2 separate regions of the Homo sapiens genome follow, and region 1 is linked to region 2. The links come from fine-mapping of genetic effects on gene expression. A gene starts in region 2. The other region holds a variant in brackets. All regions are shown on one strand. Distances are from middle to middle.

Region 1 (5,374 bases), 84 kb after region 2:
AAAGAGATTTCAACCAACGTACTCAGACTCTGAAGCCCACATTCTTAACTCTTAAGTGCATCAAATAGGGGGTCATGTAAAAAAAAAAATCCTTTAGCTGGAACTTTAAACAGGAAGGATTCTAATACTGTCTAAGAGATGAAGAGATCCCTAAGCTTAGCTCTAATCACCTTGTTATAAGAAGTTTAGCCTAAAGCTGCCTCCTTACATATTTTAAGTTTAGCCTAAATGTTCCTCCATAGCTAGTGACCTGTAACCTAACTGGATGTGCAAACAAACTTTAACCTACTCTTGTAACAAGTAGCCCAGTCTCAGCCAATCACAGCAGCCCAGTTTCAGCCAGTCATAGGCAGCCAACTGCTCAAATAAGGCAAACACTAGGCTGCAACCAATCTAGCTCTTTCTACACCTCACTTCCCTGTTTTTTTTTTGTTTTTTTTTTTTTTTTTTTGAGACAAGGTCTCCCTCTGCCACCTAGGCTGGGGTGCAGTGGTGTGATCATAGCTCACTGCAGCCTCAACCTCCCAGGTTCAAGCGATCCTCCCACCTCAGTCTCCTGAGTAGCTAGGACCACAGGCATGAGTGGTACACCTGCATATCTCTATCTATCTATCTATCTATATATATATATATTTTTTTTTTTTTAAGAGATGGGGTCTCCCTATGTTGCCCAGGGTGGTCTCAAACTCCTGGGCTCAAGCAATCCTCCTGCCTTGGCCTCCTAAAGTGCTGGGATTATAGGTGTAAGCCACTGGGCCTGGCCTGTACCTCACTTCCATTTTCTGTATGTCACTTTGCTGTTTCTGTCCACAAATACTATCCAACCATGTAGCTACCCCAGAGTCACTCTGAACCTATTCTAGTTCCAGAGGCTGCTGATCTGCAAATCATTCTTTGTTCAGTTAAACTCTGTTGAATTTAGTTTGTCTGAAGTTTTAACAACTCAAACAGAATACAAAGGCTTCTAAGCAACAATTGAACATAAACAAGTTAGCTGCTTAATAGGAACTCAGTACAGTTTCTTTGATTCAGTTTAGCTAACATTTTAAACCAATCTGGATTATAATGCCATACTCATAGAGAATTCTGCAATGGTAGTTTCTTAATGTAGTAGTATCCAATTTAATGACCACTAAGTGCTGCTCATATAAACTGGAAAAATTTATATCCCCTTCAGAAATTAGTGTTCCTAGTACAAACATAGCCTTACTTAATAAAACACTAGCTAAGTACAGCAAGGAAGCTCAAACCACTGGTAAGCAATATTCAATCAATTTATCAGTCATCTGAACCAGAGCAACTCTATTTTGAATAGAGGCTGGGTAAAATAAGGCTGAGACCTACTGGGCTGCATTCGCAGGTTAGGCATTCTAAATCACAAGATGAGATAGGAGGTCACATAAGATACAGGTCAGAAAGACCTTGCTGATAAAGCAGGCTGAGGTAAAGAAGCCGGCCAAAACCCACCAAATGGAAAATGGCAATGAAAGTGACCTCTGGTCATCCTCACTGCTCATTATATGCTAATTATAAGGCATTAGCTCGCTAAAAGACACTCCTACCAGCACCATAACAGTTTACAAATGCCATGGCAATGTCAAGAAGTTACCCTATATAGTCTACGAAGGGGAGGAACTCTCAGTTCCGGGAATTACCCACCCCTTTCCTAGAAAATTCATGAATAATCCACCCCTTCTTTAGCATATAATCAGGAAATGACCATAAAAGTGGCCAGCCAGCAGCCCTCAGGGCTGCTTTGCCTATGGAGTAGCCATTCTCTTGTTTCTTTACTTTTCTAATAAACTTGCTTTCACTTTTCTCTATGGATTGGCCTCAAATTATTTCTTACACAAGATCCAAGAACCCTCTCTTGAGGTCTGGATCAAGACTCTTCTCCAGTAGCAAATTCAGTGGCCATCACAGACCTCTCCCTCCACTAAGCAGTTTAAATGGCCAAGCCTCATGTTACTGGGAACTTTAGAAGATAGGAGGGAGAGCTCAGGTAAAATCCTAAGGAATTTGTTGTATTTCCTATCTGGGTGGGTGGCAAGAAGCTTTCAAACTGAATTTACACACCATTCAATCCCAATTTTCACCCTCATGCTTATGGCCTTCCAGAATAGAGAGTTCATTTTTGCATTAAAATAACATTGGCTACCAAAGAAAGGTTTCTTATGTGTATAATGGGGTGGGAATGAATAATTCCTACACCATCCAACATTATGGATGTTGCTCTAGTCCAACATTTTACTGTACTGTAAGTAAATTTTTTTTTTAGTTGTCATGCAAACATATAGTAAAAATTTTAAAACTGAATTTTCACTGTTTCCAAAGGGAAAGAGATCTTCTCTCCTTCCTTTTCCTCACAGCATTTCTTTGAAAAACCCAGTATTTATAAATTATTCCTCTGTCCCTTTGATATGTATGCAAATCTTTTTAAAGGCTAAATAAACTACCCCTAGCTTAGCTTGTTTAAACCCAGTAAATACAGTAAAACCCAGGACTGTTTTTCTGAAGGGCCTGGAACCCCCCCTTTACAAACGTACGTACATACATACGTAAGTTTATTTATTTATTTATTTATTTATTTTTTGAGGTGGAGTCTCACTCTGTAGCCCAGGCTGGAGTACAGTGACACAATCTCGACTCATTGCAACCTCTGCTTCCCAGTTCAAGCGATTCTCCTGCCTCAGCCTCCTGAGTAGCTGGGATTACAGGCACACGCCACCACACATTTTTGTATTTTTAATAGAGACGGGGTTCGCCATGTTGGCCAGGCTGGTCTCGAACTCCTGACCTCAGGTGATCTGCCCTCCTCAGCCTCCCAAAGTACTGGGATTACAGGCGTGAGCCACCGTGCTCAGCCAAACCCCCTATTTTAAATGGAAATATCCAGGAAGACAATGCCCCAGCCCTATCCCTATCACTGTGGAAGTTTAGCCTAGGCACCTCAACTACTTGTTTTATCATAGAGCTGTTTCATGTTTTCCTTTGGAAAAAAGTAACTAGGTAGCACAGATGACCAACCCAATTACCAGGTGAATTTAGAATGAACTATGAAAACATGTACAGCAAATGGTGCTGTCAAGTCTTCTTATAAGAGGACAAATTACCATTAATCTTGAGACTACATAATGGGTTGTATCTGCTCAGCTGCATACAAATAAGTGGTGGGATTTCTTTTCTGAAAGAAACTGCATTAGCATATTATCCATAATACATTCCAGTCTGGTTTAATGCTTATTTTTTTCTTTTTCTTTTTTTTTTTTTTTTTTT[TG/G]AGTCAGGGTCTTACTCTGCTGCCCAGGCTGGAGTGCCGTAGTATTATCACAGTTTACTGTAGCCGCAAACTCCTGGGCTCAAGTGATCCTCCTGACTCAGCCTTCTGAGTAACTGGGACAACAGGTACACACCAGCACGCCTAGATAATTTTTTATTTTTTGTAGAAATGGGGTCTCCCTATGTTGCCCAGGCTAGTCTCAAACTCCTGGCCTCACATGATCCTCCCACCTCAGCCTCCCAAAGCGCTCGGATTATAGGTGTGAGCCACCACCTACAGCCTCACAGGGGTCTTTAAGTAACAAGATACAAGCTCCTCCTAGTCTCAAGACCTCACACATGCCCTTCCCTCCTCCTGTTAGCTCTTTGTCCAATTTAACTCCAACTCAGTCCTTTAAGTCTCAGCTAAATATTATTTTCTTGGGAAAGCCTTCCCTGTCTCTCCTCATTTCCCCCTCCGCATGCCGGTGACTCCATTATGTATCCTCACAGCACCCTCTACTGTCCTCCACAGCATGCATCACAATCGTAATTAATATTTAGTTTTATTTATATATTTACTATCTCCCTTGCTAGATTTATAAGCAATTTAAAGACAGGGGCTTTATCTGTTTTGATCATCATTGTATCCACAACACCCAGCACAATGCTGGTACACTGTAAACGTTCAATAAGTATCTGAAGGAATGAATGAAATTTGTAGCTAAGCGCTAGGTTCTGGAGTGACATGGCATTGGATCGGCCTTTACTAGCTCTATGCCTTTGTTGTTGTTTGTTGTTGTTGTTGTTGTTGTTTGAGACAGGGTGTCACTTTTTTTTTTTTTTTTTTTTTAAGACGGAGTCTCCTCGCTCTTGTCGCCCAGGCTGGAATGCAGTGGCGGCATCTCGGCTCACTGCAACCTCTGCCTCCCAGGTTCAAGCGATTCTCCTGCCAAAGCCTCCCGAGTAGCTGGGATTACAGGCGCCCACCACCACGCCCGGCTAATTTTTGTTTGTTTGTTTGTTTTGAGACAGAGTCTCACTATGTCGCCCAGGCTGGAGTGCAGCGGCGGGATCTCGGCTCACTGCAAGCTCCGCCATCCGGAGCACGCCATTCTCCTGCCTCAGCCTCCCTAGTAGCTGGGACTACAGACGCCCGCCACCAAGCCCAGCCAATTTTTTTGAATTTTTTTAGTAGAGACGGGGTTTCACCGTGTTAGCCAGGATGGTCTCGAGGTCCTGACCTCGTGATCCGCCCGCCTTGGCCTCCCAAAGTGCTGGAAATACAGGCGTGAGCCACCGCGCCCAGCCAATTTTTGTATTTTTTAGTAGAGACGGGGTTTCACCACGTTGGCCAGGCTGGTCTCGAACTCCTGACCTCAGGTGATCCGCCCGCCTCAGCCTCCTAAAGTGCTGGGATTACATGTGTGAGCCACTGCGCCCAGCCAAGACAGGGTCTCACTTTGTCACCCAGACTTGAATGCAATGGCGTGATCTCGGCTCACTGCAGCCTGTCTCCCAGGTTCAAGCAATCCACTTGCCTCAGCCCCAACAAATAGCTGGGACTACAGGCGTGTGCTACCTTGCCTGGCTAATAGCTCTATGCCTTTGGATAAACTTCTTAACATCTCTAAGCCCATTTCTCCCTCCATAAATAAAAATTATAGTTCCTATGATTAGGGTTATTACAGGATTGAATAATTCAGTAAAGGGATTAGTACAGTGCCTGTAACATAGCAAACACTCAAAAAATATCAACTATTATTAAGGAATGGAGAAAAGGGGACATGTACATGGTAGGGAAGGCATATTCCACACCCTTGGCAAAGGCACAAACATAGCTTCCATTATGCAAACACACCGTTGCAATCGGCAACAGTGTAAGCAAGAATTCTGCTTACTAAATGTATGAGTGTGTGAAACCCAAACGTTACTTCAAAAGTAACTTCACGATTCTCCAATCACTACATGGAAGGTTTGGAAACTGAAAAAAAGAGCATTATGTGGCTACCATTTGTTGAATACCTACTATGTGCCAGACACCAGCTGAGCACCTTGCACGCGCAGTCTCATTTACGCTTCACAACAACCTTATGAGTGGGCTTGTTACTCCCAAAGT
Region 2 (5,374 bases):
TACCTTTTTAGAGTGACCTCTTACCACCTGTGATCTCCAAGTCACTCCATTATATCATCCTGTTCCTTTTCTTCTTGGTACTCCTCTCTGAAAATATTTACTTAAGTTGTTTATCCCATTGGAATGTAAAGCCCGTTAAGACCCAGGAACAGTGTTTGTCTTACTAAACACCGTATCTCTGTGCCCAAGAGTACCTGCAGAGTATGCCTTCAACGATTTAAGAATGAATGAATGAAAAGTGTAGTAAGAGAAGTAGCAGATTACTTTGAGCACCAGCGAGGACATGCCTTTCCACTGGCTGCCTTCATACAGCAGGACAGAGGGCTCACGGGAGTCTCCACCGCAGGACAGCCCCCAGGAACTAATTCCCACCACTCAGGCTGTGCCCTCCAAAGGTGCTCAGCTAATACATACTGAGTCAATCAGGCTGCCTATGAACCTTCCAGACAACCTCCGTGCATTAACAGTAATCAGGAGGAAACACCGTGAGGATCTTAGACCAAGTTGGCAGATTAGAAGCAGACGGTCATTCAGAAGTTAAGGGGAGAGTAAAAAGCTGGAGAAATGGGATGTTCATTAGGGCCACAGTTGTTTCAGCATTTACATTTACTCTATGCACTAGACCTACCTCCAGTGCTTCTGGAGAGGCACAATGGCAGAGTGTAATCTCTGTAACTGGACAGTCTGGGCTCAAATCCTAGCACTTTCCTGGCTGGCAGTGTGAGCAAGTCACTCAGGTCGTCTGTAAGTTGATTTCCTCATTTACAAAATGAGATTGTTGATTAAAAAAAAAAGTGATACTATTATTAAGACAGAGTCTTGCTCTGTCATCCATTCTGGAGTGCAGTCGTGCGATCTCAGCTCACTGTAACCTCCACCTCCCGGGTTCAAATGATTCTCATGCCTCAGCCTCCCGAGTAGCTGGGATTACAGGCGTGTGCCACGATGCCCGGCTAATTTTTGTATTTTTAGTACAGACGAGGTGTCACCATGCTGGCCAGGCCGGTCTTGAACTCCTGACCTCAGGTGATCCACCCGCCTTGGCCTCCCAAAGTGCTGGGATTACAGGCGTGAGCTAACGCACCTGGCCAACAGTATCACTTTTATACAGTTGTTGTGAAAATCAAGATGTAGATCACTTAAAATATAAAACAGCACTTGGCCTCCATACACGTATCACCTCATGAAATACCGCAATCCTCTGAGGGGAGATACTATCATCCCATGATACAAACCAGGCAGCTGAGAAACAGAAGTTACACAAGCAGCCCCTGAGCCAGAAGTGCGTTCTAGAATCCCTAGTATACCCTCTGAATCACCACACTGATACAAAGAAAAGACAGCCATATCCGCAGTGTCATACCATGGAACTGTTAAGAGGTCTCCAGCATGAACTACGCTGACACTTGGAGGCAGGGCTGTATGACTCAACAGGAAGGCCAGGTACTTTTTAGAGACCAGACAGGTACAAGGTCTTGAAGGACAAAAGTTGGCTGGGAGAGCTGGGCACCGTGGCTCATGCCTGTAAATCCCAGCACTTTGGGAGGCTGAGGGGGATGGATCATGAGGTCAGGAGTTGGACACCAGCCTGACCAACATGGTGAAACCCCGTCTCTACTAAAAATACAAAAATTAGCTGGGTGTGGTGGCACCACCTGTAATCCCAGGTACTCAGGAGGCTGAGGTAGGAGAATTGCTTGAACCTGGGAGGCGGAGGTTGCAGTGAGCCAAGATCGCACCACTGCACTCAAGCCTGGGCGACAGAGCAAGACTCTGTCTCAAAAAAAAAAAAAAAAGTTGGCTGGGAGGTAAAAGCATTTTAGGTAAAGCATAGAACATCTACGTATCTGCAAACCCTCTGAATTTACTAGCCTGGCAAGTTCCAGACGGGAAAGGTAGGCAGTTGAATTTGGAGAGCTAGGCAACTTCCAAACTAAGGAGGGGCTTCTTGATTGTGCTAAGGAATTTGAATCACACACTGTAGGTGATGAGGGACGGTGAGAGGATTGCAAGCAGCTAAAACTGTGGTAGAATGTCAGCTGGAAGGAAATCGAAAGGAATCCTCAACAAGGAGAGGGTCGCCTTTCCGTCTGCTGGCCCTCCTGCTGTGGCCTGCGGCGGGGTGGGAAGGGGGGTTCCACTACACAGAAGTGTGACGCGCAGGGCTGGGCTTCTTCTAGGCTGAATTCGGGACAGATTTTCGCATTTGTTTTGCTCAAGTATTTATGGGACCAATTAATATGTTTAGCAACGTTGTCTGTGGGAGCAGTAGAGGAACTGAGAAGTTCACAAACTGTAAGAGATCCTCCAAAGAGTCCACAGGTCTGAGGCAGCAGCACCTGGGAATCTCTGGGCTCCAGTTAGTCCTTCCTGACTTTGACTCGTTACAGCAGTGTCCAGACAGGGATATGTCGGGTCCTGTGGCAGGGTTCCCGTCAGGTGGGATGGTTTAGCCCCGCATCTGCCTTCAAAGATCCCGAGATTATGCCGTCGCAGCGGCCAGGGCAGGAGTGGGTGCGTGGCAGGGACTGAGTCTAAGAGGCCTGGAGGCCCTGTCTAAAACAGAGCTGTCGCTGGGCCCTCTCGCCTTCAAGCAGTTATCATACAGCTATTCCCCTTTCTTGTTTTCAGACCCTCTCCTCTAACAGCCTGCACCTGCAAGCAGGGACCTCCGTGGCAGCAGGGACAGCGTGTCTGTCTCGGCCTCCAAAGTACCCCGGAGTCTAAGAGAACTGGGGGAGGATGGTGCGGGAGCAGCGCCCGCCTCCAAGGAGGGCCCGGGCGGCGCCTCCCGCCCCTCGGTGACCTTATGGGCCAAGGCTGTGAAGGGCAGGCGTGGCGACGCGGAGGGGCCCGGCGCTAGTAGCCCGCAGACAGCGCGGCGGCCCCCAGCGGGAGAGGCAGCCTGGCGGCCAGGACAGCGCGGCCGGGCGCCTCCGCGCAGTGCTCTGGGAGTTGTAGGCACTTGCCTCTCCTCTCTCCTTCAGCTACTGGCTCTCGAAACTCAAGGACCTACCGGTGGGTGGGCGCCTGTGACTCCCAGGCTGCGAACGCCGGGAACTCAGTTTCTTCAGAAATGCTCGAACCAGGACGGCTCCTGGAGTCCTCGCGCCCTCGCAGAAGGACTACGGGCCCCGGCGACCCCGGGGGCGGGGCTTCCGGCGCGCTGCCTTGTGGGCACGGTAGTTCCGCCGGGTCTGGCTTCCGCCTGCCGAGCGGCCCCGGACCGCAGGCCGGACTACACTTCCCGTCGGCCCGCCTGCTCTCCCGATGCCGCCTTGGCGCGAGACGTTGGCAAGCAGAGTGTCTCCAAGATGGCCGCTTGGGGAAGGAGGCGTCTTGGCCCGGGCAGCAGTGGCGGCAGCGCCCGAGAGAGGTGAGATCCAAGGGCTTGTTGCCCCCAGTGCAGGCGGCTCAGCGGCCGGAGAGCCCAGCGCGGCCTCCGAGGGCTGCAGCAGCCTTCCTTCCCTGGTTTCCCCGCGCTCCCCCTACCCTCGCCGGGCATACTGGGTTCCAGTTCCGGAGGATCCGGGATCCGGGTGGGAGCGAGGTCGAAGGCCTCGGCGGAGAGCTTAGGGGAAGGGGCGTTAGCCGGGCTGAGTAAGGTAGGCAGCGGCCATGCGGGGCGGGGCCCGAGGCCGGGCCGTGCTGAAAGGAACTGGCGCCCAGCGCAGGCCTCAGGGACCCGCCTAGCTGCCCGCGGGCCGATCGGCTGCTGAAGCACCCTTCCCGCCTGGGCACGCGCGTGGCCATCTCGGCCGCGGCCCCAGACGTGTAGAGGAAGGCAGGGCCCCCGGAGAGAGAAAGAAGGGGAAGCCTTCACAGAGCAGGCCGGCCGCGGCAGGGGTAGTTTGATCTGCACGTTTACTAGGGAGCTTTAGCTCCCGCCAGATGTGTCTCTTCCGAGCCCAGAGCCGGCCACTTCCTCGAGGGAAGATTCTGAAGACTTTTGGATGGTTCTGTGCAAGCGCTCCTGCCGTAGAAGTCCTTTAAAGTGACCTTTCCTAATGAATGGTGTGTGGGCAGGGAGCTAGGAGCGTGTTTCTTCCAACAGGGACCTCCATTTGAATAACTGATTTCTAGAAGATGAGATTGGAGTAGTTTCCGTGTTTCATGTTCAAGTTGCAGTTTTTGCATCTGGGAAGCAGTTTCAGCTAGTGGAAACCACTAGAAGCTGTTCAGCCACTAGAAATTTGGGAGAAGATGTATTGGTGGAGCCACCTGGATTAACTGTCCGCTAAAGCTTGATTGTTATAGCAGCGGTCAGCAAAAAAGGAAAAGTTTTTGTTTTGCTGGTTCTCCCCCTCCCCGTCTTTTTGGTGAGGATTGTCTAACAGAAAAGTTATCTTCCTCTCAACTACTCTGCATTATTCCTTTTCTGTGACTGATTCCATCCCGTGTTCATTGCTATTGCTTGCAGATGGCTTTCCCAGCTGGGAAGATTCTTCCTGTTTGGCAGTTGTGATAGAATCCTTTAGCTTGCTTGCACTTTATTCTTTAGCCCAGTTATCCAGCGTTGCCCATTCTGCATTTCCTCTTCCTTGGAAAAGCAGTGGTAAACACACTTTTGTTTTTCTAACTCCCGCCTGGTATTAGATTGGACCATTTAAATAAGTTACCTCAATGGTTTTCAGATGCTCTTAAAAACTAGCAAACATTTTCAAGATATTCAATGCAAACAGTAATACGAAATAACCTGTTTAGAAAACAAAGTATTAGAAACATACGCCCTCTTGTTGGACTAAAAGCATCTGAAAAGAGCCGAATAGGGATGCCTCAGGCAGGGAACAGGAGCCTTGCCAGCACAGGTTAAGCTTTTATTGATCTAAGAAAATAGATGCTGAGAATTGTTTTTGTTTTGGCTTGAGACAACTGTTTATTCAAAATGGATCTGCAAATTAGCAGTGCATAGGCTGGATCCAGTCCTTGACTGTTGAACCTCAACAGTTTTTAAGAGAATTTAAATTAGTTGCCAGCAGATTTCATATAAAACGCTCCCTGAAAAGCTGGGTAGTGGCTGACTCTTTTTGGTCGGGACAAGTGCTTGGTTCCAGTTCTTGGTTCCTCACCTGACAGCTTGACTCAAATCACCTGACAGCTTGACTCAAATCACCTGTCAGCTTGACTCAATGCATTTGCCTGCTTGGTCTCTGTAGGTGTTCAGGTTGCACCTTTGGCCTGGAACTGAAGGCTCTACTCACACACGCAGATGTTGTGTGTCAGCAGGAATGTGGCATTTGGTTTTGTAGTTTGGATGTCACCATCTACTCTCCTAGATAACGTGGTATGGGTGGAGACTACCTGTCTGTTTGCTCTTGCTGTAAACCCCTAGCCAGGTTCTGTTGGAAGAGTCATTTCCCCGAGCCCAGCTTCC

The links. PIP is the estimated chance that this variant, and not a neighbour inherited with it, causes the effect.
Region 1: its variant is fine-mapped to the expression of TMEM11 in whole blood (INTERVAL, PIP 0.97).

What each region holds. Positions count from the first base shown.
Region 1 is chr17:21,127,608-21,132,981 of GRCh38, reverse strand. All of the region lies in intron 1 of DHRS7B (dehydrogenase/reductase 7B), which reads right to left. Among named protein-coding and RNA genes, the nearest start is that of DHRS7B, 3.3 kb to the right of the region's middle. The variant TG/G (reference allele first, on the strand shown) is at 3,277.
Region 2 is chr17:21,212,093-21,217,466 of GRCh38, reverse strand. It overlaps TMEM11 (transmembrane protein 11), which reads left to right and starts at 3,306. Exons shown (of 2, transcript NM_003876.3): 1 at 3,306-3,376. The coding sequence starts at 3,315. It overlaps TMEM11-DT (TMEM11 divergent transcript), which reads right to left and starts at 3,142. Exons shown (of 2, transcript NR_184102.1): 1 at 3,017-3,142. RefSeq lists enhancers at 2,325-2,534, 3,305-3,404 and silencers at 2,695-2,964, 3,085-3,224.